Linked DNA regions of Homo sapiens. The protein of the gene in region 1 interacts with the protein of each later gene in a biochemical or structural test. Each region holds a gene or a part of one and is shown in the gene's direction. Other genes may lie near its edges.

Region 1 (5,504 bases):
GTTATGCAAAGTGTCAAGACAGATTGCTATGGAGCACACAGGAGGGCCACCTAATTCAGAGGAGGAAGAGTGGAAGTGTCAAGTAGCCATTTCACTTAAAACATTTTCAGCAGGTCACCTGTGGTACTCCCAATGACTTGAGTCAAAGGGAAGGGAGCAGGAAAAAAGGAAAGAAGACATGTTCTCAGTTTGGAGGTTCTTTAGATGTTTGCATAGTAGCCTGGGGAATCACTCTGAACAACACTGGAACCTGAGGAAGGTTGGCAAGGGTATCAAAGTAGCTAGAATTTAACTTACCTGACAGTGAGCCTGATAAACCTTTTCTTTAACTATAGATTCTAGGTTTAGGCTCAAACGCCATGTTGTCCTGACCAGGTGTTAGAGTTTCTTTAAATTTTAAGAGTCTACCTGCTTAGGAGTGTAGTTATTCAAGAGTAAGGAGCTACTTGGTTGGTTGGGTTTTGCCTATCCCCAGATCGTAAACCCCGCAAGGACAAAGTCTGTCTGCATTATTCCCTACTCTGCACCCAGAGCCCACCACAGTTCCCAGTGCGATTTGATGCCTAGTTGGTGTTTAGGTAAATAATAATCCTTTATGGGTAGAATCAAGTTTCACAAGCAGGTAGTCATCTGTGCATCAGGCCCAGTCTGGAAAGGGAGAGCCACAGGTTCTAATGAACTATATGCTGATGGTGATGGTGACGACGACAATAATGATGGTCATAATAAATGATGACACTTTCTACTGATATACTGAATTATTTAAGTAAGAGGTATTTGTGACTATCCTATTGTTTATTGAATTTTAAAGTATGGTAAACTATTTGACATAATTTATTTCTAATAATAATTTTGTCAAAATTTCTTGAAATCTATCTATTTGAAGGGTGGGTTAAGCAAATCATTAACATACAAAAATAAACGTTTAGTAGTTTTAAAAGCTTTCAAGCATCATTTTAAGACTTTTAAATTCAGATAACATTCTTGTGTTTCATCAGATATTTATAAAAATCCCTAAAATGGCTGGGGACAGTGGCTCACACCTGTAATACCAGCACTTTGGGAGGCCGAGGTGGGCAGATCACCTGAGGTCAGGAGTTCGAGTCCAGCCTGGCCAACATGGTGAAAACCCATCTCTACTAAAAATGCAAAAATTAGCTGGACATGGTGGCGCATGCCTGTAATCCCAGCTACTCGCGATGCTGAGACAGGAGAATTGCTTGAACCTAGGAGGCGGAGGTTGCAGTGAGCTGAGATTGTGCCACTGCACTCCAGCCTGGGTGACAGCGAGACTCCATCTCAATAAATAAATAAATATCCCTAAAATAAGAACTAAATTTGTCCTTGCATCAGTGCATATACTTTTAAAATTGCAGCTCATCTTCATACTTTATTGAGACGTATTTGTGAATAATCCAATTAAGACATTGAAATTGTCTCTTTTTTTCCCCCTAAATTTAATCTTGTAGCATTTTTGGTTACTCCTGCTTACATATTTGGCTCTTTTCCTAGGTAAGTGGAGGTATACTTCGAATTTTTCCAGAAGGCAAAGCCCAGTTTGCTGACATTGAACCCAAATTTGATAGACTGCTGTTTTTCTGGTCTGACCGTCGCAACCCTCATGAAGTACAACCAGCATATGCTACAAGGTAGTATTCCTTTTCAGAAAAAATTGGTTTAGAGTATGGTAGGACAGGAGGGAATCTGTAGAGTAAACGTGAAAGCTTTCTAATGAGTATTTTCCTGCCAGGTACTTTTCACAGTCATTTTAATTTGAATAATTGTATAAGATTTATGTTGCACAGTCATCTGAATTCAAATAATTATATAAGACTCATTAACAGTTAGTACTAAATGTGTCTTTCTTTGCACAGCCACTCTGAAGAAAGGGAAGCACAGGCCTTCCCATCTTTCTAGCACTCTCTCCGTGCTTTGTGCATCTCTTAACTACTATCCATGCTTTGATTTTTGTAAGAGTATTTTACTTGGGAGAGAGAAAGATCAAGAAGGAAAAGGGTTTTTTAAAAGGTGGTGAGGGACAACATAGGAAAATGGATACAGAGTAGAAAAATCAGAGGTAACCAGAGAGTAGAAGTGAAGAGAAAAACAGAAGAAAGAAAAGTAGAGAACAGGTTACCATGTGTGGGAGTTAATGTTAGAAAAATGATCCTATTAGCTTTACAAATAATGAGCATCTGTTTCATTATACTTTTTCTACAAGGTATTTGCAACCTATTATATTTAGTGCTTTATTTCAAATGCTTTTTTAAAAACCATTTATCCTGACTCAATTAAAATGCTCTGGCTGTGAAAACAAGATATTGTAGACATTATCATGAAAGTAAATATTTGTAGAAAAATAGCACATTAAAAAAAAATACTTATTTTTTATTATGGAAAGGTCTTGGAACATTCTGATAGTGAGCTTCCGGCATTCATTTGCTGTATCTGGCTTAGGAGATGCTAGGGTGGCAAGAAGAGGCACAGGCTTAGATGCGCTGGGTGGAGAGTTGGCTTTAGTAATGATGGTTGACTCTAACGACTTGATTATCAGCTGTGCCTTTTTTCTTCCTGCCTTCTGAGGTGTGTTGCCTGCATCCTAATTCACGTACTGAGTAGCAAGCTAAGCAGGTTGTAGCTGGAGATTGTAAGAAATCCTGAATGGAAACCAAAGAAAGACTGTCACATCACATGATGTGCCCTTTTCAATCCCATGTCTCTTCCCAGTGGCATCCCAGTGCTGTCTCTGCCCCCTGCTGCTTCTGTAAAGATTTTCTGACACAGTAACTGCCTCATAGACCTTCCTTTTTATGAAATCCTGAGTTTGGTTTGGTTACGTCCTTTTTAGATGAATAAATAACAGATACTTGGGAGTTTATAGTAAATAAATGCCAGATGGCATGGAGGCTAAGTGCTACAGGAGTTGAGGAACGAAGGTGGTGCTACATTGGAGAGACGGGCAAGTGCGCTTTGAAGGGAGAGGCTCAGCTGGCCTAGGTGAGGAGAGGCAAGGGGTGCAGTCGTGTTAGTAAAGTTCTGGGGGAAAAGGCGTAGTTGTTCAAGTTAAGGCATGGAAAATCATGCGACGAAAAGGATTCTTGAAGTAGAATCCTATTCTGATCTTATCTAGAATGGGTGATAAGGCTGGAAAGTTAGAATGACATAAGGTAAGTTGTTGATCCAGATATTAGAATTCTGATTGCTAAGTGACTAAAAGTTTAGGGCATGGGCAAAAGATACATAAAATTATGTATCTGAGCCCTTTCCTATTTCCAAGGCCACCCAAAAGTAGAAGAAGCCACATGGTAAGAAAGGTAGTGGAACTCTGGAAAGAGCAGAGTCTGGTCTGGAAGTCAGGAGACCTCCTTAGACCTCAGCTCTGTGATTCACCAGTGGTGGGGTCTGTAAACGTCAGGCTCCCAGTTGTCCAAACTCCCAGACTCTTTACTTCAAAATACATTATGTGATTTTTCATTCTGTCATATTACTGGCTGTATGTCTGATAAATGTTGCCTTTTCCCCTGTGTCCACTGGCCACAATCCACAATATATTTGAACTAATTGCTATATTCTGCCCAGGAACTGGTGATTTGTAGCGTACTTTCACTTCCTATAGCGTTTATACATTTTCCCCATTATTTGTATCAGAAAGTATGTCTTTTGTAGTATTTAATAAACTAGAGATGCCTCACTTATTGGTGGAATGAAATATTCTAAGTCAGATTTTCAGAAAAATGAAGTTTAGACAAAGTTTAAACACAAAACACAGTATAATTGCTTTGATTAAAATCCTTAAAAATTCTTAGCATAATTTAACTGTCAAGGTTATAATTGTAAACATCCATCATTACTCTTTGCTATAATGTAGTGATGTCCCCAGAGACTGTTGAAACTGTTAGCCTGCAATGCCCTGAGTCCTTTTATCTGTTTCTTTTCTGTTCTTTTAGTACTTGTGCTATTGATAATGTGCTTTTTCTGTAACAGCCATTCTTTTACCCTTTTATTGTCTCTCTTTTTTTTTAGAGGGAGGCTCACTCTGTCACCTAGGCTGGAGTGCAGTGGCATGATCTCGGCTCACTGCAACCTCCGCCTCCCCGGGTTCAAGCGATTCTCCTGCCTCTCAGCCTCCTGAGTAGCTAGGGCTACAGGCATGTGCCACCATGCACGGCTAATTTTTTTTTTCTTTTTTTTAGTAGAGATGGGGTTTCACCCTATTGGCCAGGTTGGTCTCGAAGTCCTGACTTCATGATCCACCCACTTCGGCCTCCCGAAGTGCTGGGATTACAGGCGTGAGCCACTGTGCCCGGCCTATTGTCTCTTTCTGATCTGCAGTTCCCTTGCAAAAAATAAGTAGTTGAAATAAGTATTAAGAAAGTCACAAAAACTCATCAACTTCAGACATCAATTTTAGTCTCCCCTGGTTACTGTATAAATAAGCTGTTAAATTTATCCTTTGATATCATTCCAGTTTAGGCATAATTTTGGCATTACAAGTTTTAATATACCATTGCAGCAAAATACCACTTTTTCCCCGCAGTGTGATCATTCTTATCCTATTCTAAATTTTCTTTTAGGTACGCAATAACTGTTTGGTATTTTGATGCAGATGAGAGAGCACGAGCTAAAGTAAAATATCTAACAGGTAAACGTCATTTGGGGCCAGGATATATTGGTACAGAAATACCCTGCAATCAGGTGATGCTTTCAGGAAACTCAAGCATAGTCTTTGTTAACACCATGAATACTTACTTTTTGTTTTTTATCAGATTTCTTATTTGCCTCATTTTTTAAGAAGACATAAGTCATCTTCACTGTTATCTTTAACCAAAAAAATTGTCAAAGGATGTGGAAAATTTGAGGCAAAGAAGTCTGAGTAAATTATTCACATACAAACTGAGTTTTCTGTGATTATCCTTTTCAGTCAAAGGCCACTTAACTCTAGGTAACGGCCATATGGTTTCCTCTCATTCACTCCTTAAATTAATACCCTTTCCTTTTCAAATGGATGTGCTCTAAACAGTACTCTAGGTCTTCCATGTTAAATGTAGACATGAAGAAAATTAATACAAAGAATTATGAATTCAAATGCCAAAATCAGTAAATGACACAGACATGTAGATTCCATATCTGCTAATGGTGTACATAGGTCAGCACTCTTGTACTGAACCTGAAGATCCTTTAATTATGCCAGTTCCCCTTCTCTTCCACTTATGGACTGCCTCTCCAAGAGCAGGGGGTCTGTTTCCCATCTGATGGACCACTTACCTTCTTTTCTTTAACTCTACTTTCTATCTCCAAAAATCCACTGAGTATTCACATTACTGATTAGCTGTGTTTTCCAGAGCCATTGCTAATCGCACGTCGACCTTACATAAAAATGGAATATTCATGCATTTTCTATGTATTTTTAAAGCCATTATTTGTGGCACAAGCTCAGTGTGCTTTCAGAGACACTGAACACTCTGTTGAAGAAACTCAAATGGCTTTTAAAATAAAAAGACAAA
Region 2 (4,501 bases), about 120 Mb from region 1:
TGATATATAATATATATGATATATATAATATATATGATATATTATATATGATATATATAATATATATGAGATATATATTATATATATGATATATAAATATATATGAGATATATATTATATATATGATATATAAATATATATGAGATATATATAAATCTATATATATATCAGGGGTGGAGGAGGATTTCTGGCTATAGGGGCTATAGGAACTTGACAGGATTCTTGCTGAATGCAGGCTGAGGTGATCAGGTAATCACCTGGAGAATGGTGGGGAATGAGGACTTAGATCATATATCAAGAGTGGGTGATTCTGGCTAAACCAACTTAGCAGGATTCCTGCTAAAGCTGGGCTCTGGAGGACATGCCAAGGATGAGGCCTACTGAAAAAAGAGCTCAGAGGAACCTGTCTAGAGTTTGGTTAAGGACAGCGTCTTTTTCAGTGTATGTATATATACATACATACAGATATATAAATAAAATTAATTTATTCAAAAAATATAATACAGTTTGTACAAGTAGTCAGTGGAGTTATTTGCTTCTGTACTAAATACCTACTGCAATGTGCCTAGCTTTGCATGGATACTTAGATATGACTCAGAGGGTATACTAACAATGATAATATAAATTATCAGGGTTTTTTTTTTAATGATTCACTTGAGCTTGAAGTCAAAATTCTTTGCTACTGAAATAAGTAGGATTTTAGACATTTATACATACATTTTAGAGAGGAGTTAGAAAAGGGAGAAGGTCTGTGTTAGAAATCTATCTTTTCAGCAGTTAATAGAGGTTTCCAAAATTCAAATTTAGTTGCTAAATTGTAGTTATTTTTGCCCCTCTAGCAAAAAAATTAACTTATTTGTTGATTTTAATATTTTTAACATGATTATGTTTTTCCAGGCGATGTTATTGTAGACATCAATGGCAACTGTGTCCTCGGTCACACTCATGCAGATGTTGTCCAGATGTTTCAATTGGTACCTGTCAATCAGTATGTAAACCTCACTTTATGTCGTGGTTATCCACTTCCTGATGACAGTGAAGATCCTGTTGTGGACATTGTTGCTGCTACCCCTGTCATCAATGGACAGTCATTAACCAAGGGAGAGACTTGCATGAATCCTCAGGATTTTAAGCCAGGAGCAATGGTTCTGGAGCAGAATGGAAAATCGGGACACACTTTGACTGGTGATGGTCTCAATGGACCATCAGATGCAAGTGAGCAGAGAGTATCCATGGCATCGTCAGGCAGCTCCCAGCCTGAACTAGTGACTATCCCTTTGATTAAGGGCCCTAAAGGGTTTGGGTTTGCAATTGCTGACAGCCCTACTGGACAGAAGGTGAAAATGATACTGGATAGTCAGTGGTGTCAAGGCCTTCAGAAAGGAGATATAATTAAGGAAATATACCATCAAAATGTGCAGAATTTAACACATCTCCAAGTGGTAGAGGTGCTAAAGCAGTTTCCAGTAGGTGCTGATGTACCATTGCTTATCTTAAGAGGAGGTAAGTAAAAGCACAACATAGAAAAAGTTTCAGTGTTCAAGCGTTTATATCTACTGATTGTCTTTCCTTACAGTTTAGAATGTGTTTTCCCAGCAGACTTAACTAGTAATTAGTGTGCATTTTCCTTAAGGTTCTGTCTGATTGTTTCCATAAGCAGTGTCTTTTTCAGCAGTTTTTAAAAAATTATTAGTGATTTCATTCATGTCCATTATGGATTTATTTCCCTCTGTATTCTTTTGAAAATCTGATTCATGGCTTTAATGATTAGAGAGAGTCACAGCATTGTGATACTTCAAATGAAATACATCCTCTTAATTTCATTTCTCTGTTGATGACAGTAATAGAAATTGACTCTTTCAACCAATGGTGTGTCATCTGGACCTCTGTAATGCACCAAAGATGTTTTGAAAGAGCTAGCATCTCTGTGGATAAGTAAAATGTTGGATGGTGTATTAATCTGTTCTGCAGAGGCAATCATGATAGCATGTGCTCATAAAGTTTTCATCTTAAGCTCTAGTATCTGACTGTAAATGTTAATTAAACCACACAGTGCTTATGTGAGAGAAATATAATTTTTATTTTCCAAGGTCATCAGCTGACATGAACTCCTCCCAGACATTTACAAATTCAGTTCCAAGGAATAATCACAAAGTTGAATTTTAATATGCTTTCTTAAATCCATACTTATAAGTGACTAGTATCTTAAAGAATAAAAGCCACTTACTCTTTTATCTCTCTGGATTTTACTTTTCACTATTGAGGCAAACGAGCACTTCAGCTTCTTTGGGAGTTGTTTCTTATTCTCGTTTCTTTGATTCACATGGGTTTCTTCTCTGAGTGATGGTGGAATGTGCTCCAAGTAAGGTAGAAATCTCTTTGTGAGTGCTTGAGAGTAATCCAGGGCTTCAACAAGTATAACAAAGACACCAAAGTTCAATGTCACACAGGTTTGATGTCAGTTTCCTGCCTTGCCACTTACTGGTTCTTTGGTATAGGAAAGAATCTTAGTTTACCTTCTCTGTAAGATGGTCATAACATTTGTGCCTTCAGATTGTTATAAAAATGAAATGAGATAATATATGTATAATGCCTGGTACATAGGAGGTTAGACACAGAATTTACTAGCGTACTAAAAGTTGAAGCTAGTTTTATCGTAAACATTAGCAGTATTTGTGATCTGGGAATGCATCCTCTGGTTTTAAACTTTGGTTCATTTTTTTTTTAAGGTCCTCCTTCACCAACCAAAACTGCCAAAATGGTGAGTATACACTGGTCCTCAAATCTTTTCCCCAACACACTGAGAGAGATGCCACATTCCCCTCTGTAAGAGGAGCTCACTGTGGTGATGATTATCGACTGGGAGAAGTTAGGAGGCATGCTGCCCTTGGCTTGTATTTATTAGAAACTAGGGAAGCGTTTGAAAAAGCCCCCTAGTGAGGAGATGTGCTCCACTGGTTAAGTATTGCAACTGGAGGATTACTAAAGGCCTATTGTACCAATAATCCTGTTCTCTAAGTTATAAAATGTGAACACATTAAAGAACCAACCTAGAGGTCTTTTTACTTTTGTGTTTCAGAGAAACAAGGTAGGAAGGACCTAAATGTTAAGACAGATGATAAACTATTACATCGTCTTGCCCCTGCCTGAAGAGAAGACGTACTAGTTCACATAATTTTGTGGGGACTATAAATATGCATGCACCTTTAGATAATCTTCTTACTTTTAAGACTAAATTAGGCTTATTTTTTTATTATTTATTTTTTATTTATTTATTTATTTTTTGAGACGGAGTCTTGCTCTGTCGCCCAGGCTGGAGTGCAGTGGCGCTATCTCGGCTCACTGCAACCTCCGCCTCCGGGGTTCAAGCGATTCTCCTGCCTCAGCCTCCCAAGTAGCTGGGACTACAGGTGCACGCCACCACACCCAGCTAATTTTTTTGTATTTTTAGTAGAGACAGGGTTTCACCATGTTGGCTAGGATGGTCTCAATCTCTTGACCTCATGATCTGCCCGCCTCGGCCTCCCAAAGTGCTGGGATTACAGGCATGATACACCACGTCCGGCTGACTAAACAAGACTTTCTAGAGTAATTGTGGCCTTCTATGCTAAATTTGCTTGTTGTCAAAGTGAAAGACCTGAAACAGTGTCTTCTTTGGCATTCTTCTAAATAATCACGTAGCCTGTTTAAGGACCTGTGCAGAGAATAAGAACTTTAAAAAGGAGTGCATCAAATGCTGCTGTTGTGGAAGAAACTCTACAAGGTGCACATTTGTAGCTATTTAAATATCCACAATGTTTTGGATATAAAGACAATTTTATTTAAAATTCTAATTTAGTTCTAGTTTGCTCCTTTGGAGTCTTTTATCTCAAAATCAAAAGATGGCCTTCCATAACCATAAACTATAGACAATTATATTAAATGAATTAGTTCTTTCTAGCCCACCAAGTAGGAATCCTCTGCAAATTTGCTGTTTTATAGATTAAAAAGAATCCCTCAGCTTCTGGCCTTTTTTTTTTTTTTTTTTTTGAGACAGAGTCTCACTCCATCACCCAGGCTGGAATGCAGTGGTGTGATTTTGGCTCACTGCAGCCTCTGCCGCCTAGGTTCAAGCAATTCTTGTGCCTTAGCCTCCCAGTAGCTGGAATTACAGGTGCACGCCACCACACGCAGCTAATTTTTATATTTTTGGTAGAGATGGAGTTTCACTACATTGGCTAGGCTGGTCTCAAATTCCTGACCTCAGGTGATCTGCCCACCTCGGCCTCCCAAAGTGCTGGGATTACAGGCATGAGCCACTGCGCCCGGCCAGCTTCTGCCCTTTTCATTGACTGCTTATACTACTTGGGTCCAGTGTGAACAGAAATTGTTTTTGTCCATTCAGTTCAAATTGCACTGTATTCTACATTTCTCTGGTTCCTCTAGTAATCATTTTTAACTCCTGTGCCACCATATTTATTTCATAATGGATGCCACTGCAGTCGCAGTGGCCCTAATGCTT
Region 3 (4,501 bases), on another chromosome or scaffold:
AGCTTGAGGCTACCGTTTTGACATGGTCTCGCTTCCTGTTTACACCACAGGAAGCGAGAGAGCTGCTGCCACTGCTGCTACCACAGGAAGACACAGCAGGGAGAAGCCCTAGTGCCTCTGCCGGCTGCCCAGGACCTGGTATCGGCCCACAGACCAAGTCCTCCACAGAGGGCGAGCCAGGGTGGAGAAGAGCCAGCCCAGGTAAGCTTTCATTGAGATCTTCCAAAAGGAAGGGTCTTTTGAAAAAAGGTGCAGGGATAAGATAAGAGCACAAATTGGCCTGAGGATCAGAGTGCTCTGCATTGACATCACCACTGGACCTGGCTGATCAACAGTCAAGGGTTCCAGGTGCTGGGCAGCAGCACCGTGGAGGTGCTGTCCAGGGTGGGGAGCCTCCTGGGTGGACGGGTGATGCTGTGGGGGTGGCAGCAGGAATGCAGGCCATTCTGGATAATTGGGAGGATGGAGCCCTTGGAAGAGGTCCAAAGACACACCCACCCAGCCATCCTGGGCAGCTACCTCTAGGGTGCCAACATTCCAGTTGCAACAGTCCTGCTGCATTCAGGATTTCTGAGTCAGAGAATGCAACGCCAGAAAAGTATAAATAGCATCTACCAGTGGTCACCTCCTCCATGAGGTGGATAGCAAGGGTGTGTCCACATGGTACACCTGACAATGCTAAGACATGACTTGAATATTTATTTGCTTGCTAGAGAGAGCATAGGACTTGAAGTCAGGGAATCCTGGATCTGTCTGTCATTAGTATGATTCTGAGCAACCTACTTTGCCTTTCTGAGCCCAGATTCACTCATCAGCAATGTGTGGAAGAGCACGTAGACCCCAAGCATATGATGCATTCAGCAAGCACACATTGAATGCTGGCTTCGTGAGGCCCTGTGCTAGATGCTGGGGGGAGAGAGAGAAAGGGATGAGACCAGGTAGTCAGGTCCTGCCTCCAAGGAGCAACTAGTAGTGGCAGGAAATAAACATATAGACTATAAAACATATGACTGTTTGAGTAACACTACAGAAAAGCTCATGAAAGACTTTTGGAGGGCTAAGGGACATTTTGGAAAGATCTAGCACATCTCACCCAGAGCAGAGGCCCTGTGGGTGGAGGCTCCTCTCCCTTAGTCACCCTAATTGAGGAACATTCTAGCAAAAGCAAACGCCTCAGTGTTTAACTGACAGGAGGTTGTCACTCCAATCTGCAAAGGGCTTGCCTGTGGAACCTCTGCCTCCTGATTCTCACAACAGCACCTTACAGCCAAGCCATTCAAAAATGCAGAAACAGGCTGGAGGCCTGGGCTCACTTGCCCAAGGCCAGTCTCTTAGATTGTGCAGAATTTCTCTTTGATATCATCAAGGTGTAATGCTCCATGATTCACTTCTTTTGAAACCTGGCATTGAGACAAGGGACAGGAGGGATCAGAGTTCCTTCAACTGGGTTGCGTTCCAGTAGCAAGCATCCCCCAAGGCACACAGGCCAGCCTCCCTCTGCCCCTGGGAAAGAGAGCCAGGACACCCTCTCCCTTACCCATGCAGATATGATGCTGGTTCAATGCTGGCTTCTGAGAAAGACTCCTATGTGCTCCAGGGCATGCCTGAGGTCCTGGCTGGCACAGAGCAGGTTGCACATTGCAATCCCCTGCTCATCACATTCCCAACACCCAGGCTGCATCCCAGGTATCTTCAGTCAGTACCTAGGGGTGGGCGTCAGTATTTTTCAGGGCCCTCCAGATTCCAGTATGTAGCCAAGGTGGAGAATCCTACTTCACAGATTCCTTTCTACCTGGAACCTTTTCATCAGCTTTTGAGGGAGGGAAAACACTCCTTTGCCGAGAGCAAGCTGATCAATGACCTGTGTATAGGCAGAGCAGCAAACACACGGCTTCAGGGCCAGGCAGGTACATACATGGGAAATGCTGGCTGGGTGAGAGGGAGCGTGAAGAGCTGTGGGAAGCCGAAGTGGCCCCATCAGAAGCTGTGCACAGGCACCTTGTTTTTAATGACACGGGTAGGTCAAAGCACAAACAGCTGCCAACTCATGACCTTTGTCTTAAAAGTTTAAACGGCAGGAGAACTGCTTTGGCTTTTACACATTTAACATGGTATCTTGGAGGCTCCTTAGTGCAGTAGAAAGGACATGAACTTCAAGAGTCAGGAGACACAGGGTCTTGCCTGAGCACTGCCATCAGATGGCCCCTTACCCTTCTTGAAATGTAATATGCCAGAGGTCGGCCCAGATATTCTCTGAGCACCCTTCCAGGCCTAAAACACTAGGATACTGTGAGATTAACTCCTACTTCTGGTCCTTCACTCCTGCCTGTTGGCAGCTCAGTCAGGTAATAGCACCTGGAGTTCACCCACCTGGGTGTCCCCCACTTCTGCTAATCTCCTCCTCTTGAATCCTTCTTGCTGTTCAGCTTGGAAACTAGAATTTAGGAAGAAAAGTCACTGTATGATGTAATGCACAGCTTTGGCCTTGTTTCTGCACTGTAGTGACCCAAACATCCCCGATAAAACACCCACTGCTTAAGAGGCAGGCTCGGATGGACTATAGCTTTGATACCACAGCCGAAGACCCTTGGGTTAGGATTTCTGACTGCATCAAAAACTTATTTAGCCCCATCATGAGTGAGAACCATGGCCACATGCCTCTACAGCCCAATGCCAGCCTGAATGAAGAAGAAGGGACACAGGGCCACCCAGATGGGACCCCACCAAAGCTGGACACCGCCAATGGCACTCCCAAAGTTTACAAGTCAGCAGACAGCAGCACTGTGAAGAAAGGTCCTCCTGTGGCTCCCAAGCCAGCCTGGTTTCGCCAAAGCTTGAAAGGTTTGAGGAATCGTGCTTCAGACCCAAGAGGGCTCCCTGATCCTGCCTTGTCCACCCAGCCAGCACCTGCTTCCAGGGAGCACCTAGGATCACACATCCGGGCCTCCTCCTCCTCCTCCTCCATCAGGCAGAGAATCAGCTCCTTTGAAACCTTTGGCTCCTCTCAACTGCCTGACAAAGGAGCCCAGAGACTGAGCCTCCAGCCCTCCTCTGGGGAGGCAGCAAAACCTCTTGGGAAGCATGAGGAAGGACGGTTTTCTGGACTCTTGGGGCGAGGGGCTGCACCCACTCTTGTGCCCCAGCAGCCTGAGCAAGTACTGTCCTCGGGGTCCCCTGCAGCCTCCGAGGCCAGAGACCCAGGTGTGTCTGAGTCCCCTCCCCCAGGGCGGCAGCCCAATCAGAAAACTCTCCCCCCTGGCCCGGACCCGCTCCTAAGGCTGCTGTCAACACAGGCTGAGGAATCTCAAGGCCCAGTGCTCAAGATGCCTAGCCAGCGAGCACGGAGCTTCCCCCTGACCAGGTCCCAGTCCTGTGAGACGAAGCTACTTGACGAAAAGACCAGCAAACTCTATTCTATCAGCAGCCAAGTGTCATCGGCTGTCATGAAATCCTTGCTGTGCCTTCCATCTTCTATCTCCTGTGCCCAGACTCCCTGCATCCCCAAGGAAGGGGCATCTCCAACATCATCATCCAACGAAGACTCAGCTGCAAATGGTTCTGCTGAAACATCTGCCTTGGACACAGGGTTCTCGCTCAAGTGAGTTTCTACACCCGGTGTTTCTCTTTACCTTTCTCATCTTTTTCTTTCTCATCTTTATTTTTAAAAATAATCCTATATATAATTTAAAAAATTCCCAGATATATTGATTAAAGAATTGTTCTGCCTCTTTCTTTCCATGTGTGTGCAGATGTCTGAGTGTGTGTGTGTCTGTCTGTAGGTATTACACCTCTGCCTTTCACATTAAGGAGGAGTTTTCACAACATCTGGCTTCAGGAGGGCTGGGAGGTAGGAGGTGGGACTGGCTCCCTGGTGAATTGCTCATGAGGGCTGACATACGCCTGTGGAGATTTGGAAGGTTGATGCACATCTGAAATGTCCTGCGGTTACTCAGAAAGACCAGAATGAGGCCAGGAAATTATCCATCAGGAATTCTTACTCTCCAAATGGAATCCACTTGTACTCTGCACGTGGGTTCAACTCCCTCGTCAGGGAGTTAGGATGTCTGGGTCCTAGTCTCAGCTTAGGCACTGATTCTGACTATGAGCAGGTTCTTTCCATGCTCACCCTCAGATTCCTTGTCAGTTGAAATTAGGAGATGGATGAGACCTTCTATGCAGAACCAAGAGGATGTCAGACGTGCCATAGGGTCCCTGCTGTAGGGCTGGGGCTTGGTCTTCCCTCTGATCAAAGTAGCTCTGCATTTATTAGTTTTATTTATTATTCTTACACTGCTGGGAAATATCTGTAGAGTGAAGGTATGCTAGTATCTACTCATAGATTTGTTGCATCAAATAATATGCACATAAGTGCTTGGCACCACACCTGGGACATAGTAATTATACAATCACTGTTACCTCTTTTTAATATTGTTGTTCATACTGTGTGTTGTTTCTCCTTATGAAAGCCTTTCAGAGCTGAGAGAATATACAGAGGGTCTCA
Region 4 (4,501 bases), on another chromosome or scaffold:
TGAGCACACATAATGCCACTCTCCCGTCCTCTAGGTCCTAGGCAGGCGTTGAGAACTTATCACACAACTCCTTCCTGCTAGTGCAGAAACAACCTCAGAATCCCACTCAACATAGCACTCCAGGCAGCCACAATTTGGGACTGGCAAGCAGGATAAGTTTGGCCATCTCCGCTCAGAGGAAGTATTAATAGCAAGCTAGAGAATTTTATAGACACTGAAGATACAGATTTACATATATTTTAAAAAGGCTTTAAAACAACCCTTCCCAAAGTGAGATGCTTCCCTGAAAAAGGCTTCTGGGCTCAATAGATTTGGGTAAATGCTCCCTACAATATCTCCCTCTCAAAGATTTTTTAGAGTCATTTTTTAAAAACTACAAGAAGGCTTAAAGCTTAGAAACTTAACTTTATCCTGGCTGGCCATGGTGGCTCACGCCTATAGTCCCAGCACTTTGGGAGGCTGAGGTGGGGAGACCACTTGAGCTCAGGAGTTCGAGACAAGCCTGGCCAACATGGCAAAACCCTGTCTCTACTACAAATAAAAAAATTAGCTGGGTGTGGTGGTGTATGCCTATAGTCCCAGCTACTTGGGAGGCTGAGGCATGAGAATCGCTTAAACCCCGGGGGCCGGGAGGGGAAGGTTGAAGTGAGTGGAGATCAAACCACTGCACTCCAGCCTGGGCAACAGAGCAAAACCCTGTCTCAAAAAAGAACTACATAAAAATATCCTAATATTTTACACAATTTTCAACTACAGAATAGAAGTGTTTGTGTACATTTCCATCTGATACTATAACAATTCCTTAGAGACTGGTGCCACAAGAACACCTGCTGGAGAGCCCTGCCTAGCTGACCTGGCTAGACTGGATCCCTCCCTCCTCCTCCCTTCCTTCCTGCCTTTCTTTCTACTCACCCCGACCCTCTCCAATTCAACATCCGGGCTCTTCCTGGGTGGTCTTTCTAAGAGACCAGCTCACGACCACTCTCACATGCAACCTTTTGTAACGCCTCACTGGCCGTGGGGTTGCCTTCTGACTTCTCAGTGAGACACACCTGGAGCCTAGGATAGGGTCCCTGCTCCCGTCTGGTTCCCCTTTGGCACTCTGCCATAATCAGGACCGGCTTCCTGGGTGTGTGTCCTGAGTGTGTGACCCTGTGTCATAGCACAGGGTCCTGCACTTAGTTTAATGCTCTGCTATCACTGTCCTGGAATTCTTAATAATTTTGAACAAGGGACCCCACATTGCTATTTTCCCCCAGGCCCCTGTCCTGCTCATAATCCCCTTCCCTTCAGATGCATGTCAGCTCATCTGCATCTTCGTGCCTTTGTACACACGGATCCCTTCACCAGCACCTCACTCCCCACTTTCCTCTTGGTTAACTCTAGCCTTGGCTAAGCCCCTTCCTCTACATTAGTGCCATGGCCTGTGCTTCCCAAGGTGAAAGTCCTTGTCATCCTCTATGGTCTTTGTCTCTTTTAGTGACCGTCTCTCTCATCACACCATTATTTTCCTGAAGGCAGGGACTGTATCTGGTGTGGCTGTGCAGCACCAGGCACAAAAGACGCCTGGATTTACTGTGACGGCAGGACTCAGCAGCTTGGCTGTACACAGAGATAGGTGCTCACAGCTGATGCTCCCCAGCAAGAAGCGGTAGTGCAGCCTTTATCTGGAAAGTGACCTGCAGTGTGTGTTGAGCTTGAGAAAAAGTCTGATTTTGAATCTGAATTTGAGGACTTTCTCCTATGAATTGTGGTCATTTAAATGCATGAGGGAAATGCTTATAAGATGCTTCTGTTTTCTTTTGCTCGATGTGTACACGTGACATAAAGTTCAACCAACAACGATTGAGCATTTGTGCTGACTGCTGGCTGTTCCGAAGTGAACAGGAATAGGCCACAGTCTGTATGTTCCAGGAGCTCACATTCCAGGGGAAAGGCCAAGTGAGACCCCCTGAGTGATTGGATACAATGACAAGCTACGCAGGTGAACTTGAGTGAAAGGCTGACCTCTGGTTTGATTTGGGGTGCTTGGCACAGGTGGAAATCCATCTTGTCAAAGCATCTAGTTTTCATGAGCATTCCAAGCATGTGCTTGGGCAGAAGGATGTTCTGGTTTAGAAAGCAGCAGACAACACAGAATTGCTGCAGAGATGATTGCTCCGCACTTTGCGGCCTCAGTGATGGATCTTGTGTCTGTCCTTAAACTCTCCAGAAGGGGCAGGCATCTGCTCTGGTGCTTGTGGGAACACCCGTTTCCATGTCTCCAAGGCCTGCCTGACAAGGTGCTGGCCTCGTAGTGGCAGCTCTGGCTGCTCTCTCCTCTCACCGGCCCTGTCTGCCTCCAGCCCCTGCAGCTCTGCGAGCCCCTGCACTCCATCCTGCTGACCATGTGTGAAGACCAGCCTCACAGGCGGTGCACGTTGCAGTCGGTTCTGGAAGCTTGTCGGGTTCATGAGAAAGAAGTGTCTGTCTACCCAGCCCCTGCTGGTCTCCACATCAGAAGGCTGGTTGGCTTGGTTCTGGGTACCATTTCTGAGGTCAGTAGAGAACCGTGCTTTTCAAGCAGTAGCTGCTGGTCATGTGTGGCTATTAAAATTTGAATTAGTTATATTATCATTAACTAAAATAAAATAAAAAATTAAATTAATCAGTCACATCTGTCACATTTCAAGTGCTCCGTTGCCACTCGTAGCAGGTGATGACCCTATTGAACAGGGTGGATCTAGAACATTCTTGTCATTGCAGTTCTATTGGGCAGTGCTAACAAAGACCTTTAGGCAAGCCCCAGTTTGTCACATGGCTAAGACCCTTGACATCTTTGCAAGTGCGTCCTTACATAAAGCAATAATGTTTAGAACCCATGATTCAGTTTTCTTATCAAAATTCAACTCTAGGTTCTGCACAGAAGCCTTCCCCGACTTCGTTTTTGTGGTCCCTGGGTACCCTCCCCTCTGCTATTTTATACCTGTGGGGTGTCCTTTGTTGTGCTTGTCACACTGTGCTGCTTGCTGCCCTGTGCACTCCACAGAGTGCAGCAAGGGGCCTGGCACATGGGAGGCATTTGGCTTAGGTTGGATTCCCTCCAAGCTAACCCAGAGACAGGGATTCTTGTGCAAGTTATTTACTGGGGAAATGTTCCTGGGAGAGGGGAGTGATGGTAGTACAGCTGACAAGTTGAAGGATATAGTCTCAGCTGGAGACAGGCCCAGCCTGGCCCCCTGGGGAGCTCTGTTGCAGGAATGGCACCATGGAGTTGGTCCCCCATGAGACCTGAGTGGAGCTGGGATAGGATGGGCAAGTGAGGTGCCTATGGCACAAAATGTAAGGAAGTTTGTATTTGGGAGGAACCAGAGACAGGTAAGCTAGAGGCCAGTTGAGTGGCTGCACTTGTCCAGGGACAAGTTGGAGAGCTGAGAGCAGGATTAATGAGGGCCAAAGTGGATGGAGATGTGGGGACAGCAGGGTGGACAGCGGCAACAGTCAATCAGAGAAGGCCTCTGCCATCAGAGAAGGCCTCCTTCTTGGACCCCTTCTCTCTTGGCATAGGAACATGTGGCTCCTATGAATTGAGCCAGAGGATTTGGTGGGGGAAATGGACTATATTTATTTGAAAGATACTGAGGTCTACCATCCACTGGTGTGCCATTGTCCTTGGATAGACAGTGTACTGACCTGCAACATTTCCGTCAGGGATCTGCAAGGTAGATGTCAGTCACGTATTCAACATTCATTGGGCACTGCATTAGGTGTGCTACGGTGGTGCATAAAGCACACAGAGATGTTGGGGGAGACAGACAAGCAGCACACTCATGGAACATGATGCAACAGAGCCAGGTGTGAGTGCAGTGATAAGGGAAGGTGATCAGACGGCAGAGGTAGAGAGGCTTAGAAGTAGAAAGCACACAGCTCTGGGTCTTGTGGGCACAGAGGAGCTTCTGGGGAGGCTGTAGCCATGGAGGGAATGCATGAGCAAAGGCACAGATGTGTGTGAGTGTGCAGGTCTGGAGTGGGGAGTGAAGTGCCTTCAGGGTGCATGCAGGGGGTGGGCACAGAGCACATTCTGGGTGCCAGAGAACACATCTTTAGGTCACCGTATAGGGCAGACAATTCCACATTGATTCAGTCTGACAGCCAGTTTGCATGTATCTATAAAAACGCCCCCTCCTTATCTTGGGATGTGGATGTGTGATGCACTTGACCCCCAGGTGGAGAAAAGAGTTGTGGAGGAAAGCTCCTCTGTGCAGCAGAACAGAAGCTACCTGCTCAGGAAGAGGCTGCGTGGGACAAGCAGCGAGAGCCCAGCGGCACAGGCCCCGGAGTGTCTGCATCCTTGCAGAGGTGGGTACGTGCCCTAAGCAGTCCCTGCGTGGGCTGATGGTACCCATTCTATTTTTTCCTGCCCTGTATGGGCTACACATCCACATTGTGATGGCAGAGAAAGCCTATGTAAGTGCCACTCTTTCAGGAAGCCCCTGAAGAGAAGGGGCTGAGCTTAGGACTC

The links.
Region 2: the proteins of EGLN1 (region 1) and MAGI3 interact in a test that uses a peptide from one of them, tested with the Homo sapiens proteins (one large-scale study listed by IntAct).
Region 3: the proteins of EGLN1 (region 1) and IL16 interact in a test that uses a peptide from one of them, tested with the Homo sapiens proteins (one large-scale study listed by IntAct).
Region 4: the proteins of EGLN1 (region 1) and FRMPD2 interact in a test that uses a peptide from one of them, tested with the Homo sapiens proteins (one large-scale study listed by IntAct).

Annotation. Positions count from the first base shown.
Region 1 is NC_000001.11:231,366,707-231,372,210, reverse strand, and holds part of EGLN1 (egl nine homolog 1), read left to right. Parts: intron 1-1,512; coding exon 1,513-1,649; intron 1,650-2,367; exon of another isoform or gene 2,368-2,657; intron 2,658-4,574; coding exon 4,575-4,642; exon of another isoform or gene 4,643-4,644; intron 4,645-5,504. UniProt on the Homo sapiens protein: Cellular oxygen sensor that catalyzes, under normoxic conditions, the post-translational formation of 4-hydroxyproline in hypoxia-inducible factor (HIF) alpha proteins.
Region 2 is NC_000001.11:113,641,014-113,645,514, forward strand, and holds part of MAGI3 (membrane-associated guanylate kinase, WW and PDZ domain-containing protein 3), read left to right. Parts: intron 1-897; coding exon 898-1,503; intron 1,504-2,729; coding exon 2,730-2,761; intron 2,762-4,501.
Region 3 is NC_000015.10:81,296,878-81,301,378, forward strand, and holds part of IL16 (pro-interleukin-16), read left to right. Parts: exon of another isoform or gene 1-50; coding exon 51-201; intron 202-2,426; coding exon of another isoform or gene 2,427-2,470; exon of another isoform or gene 2,471-2,502; coding exon 2,503-3,598; intron 3,599-4,466; coding exon 4,467-4,501. UniProt on the Homo sapiens protein: Interleukin-16 stimulates a migratory response in CD4+ lymphocytes, monocytes, and eosinophils. Primes CD4+ T-cells for IL-2 and IL-15 responsiveness. Also induces T-lymphocyte expression of interleukin 2 receptor. Ligand for CD4.
Region 4 is NC_000010.11:48,240,197-48,244,697, reverse strand, and holds part of FRMPD2 (FERM and PDZ domain-containing protein 2), read left to right. Parts: intron 1-2,345; coding exon 2,346-2,537; intron 2,538-4,205; coding exon 4,206-4,338; intron 4,339-4,501.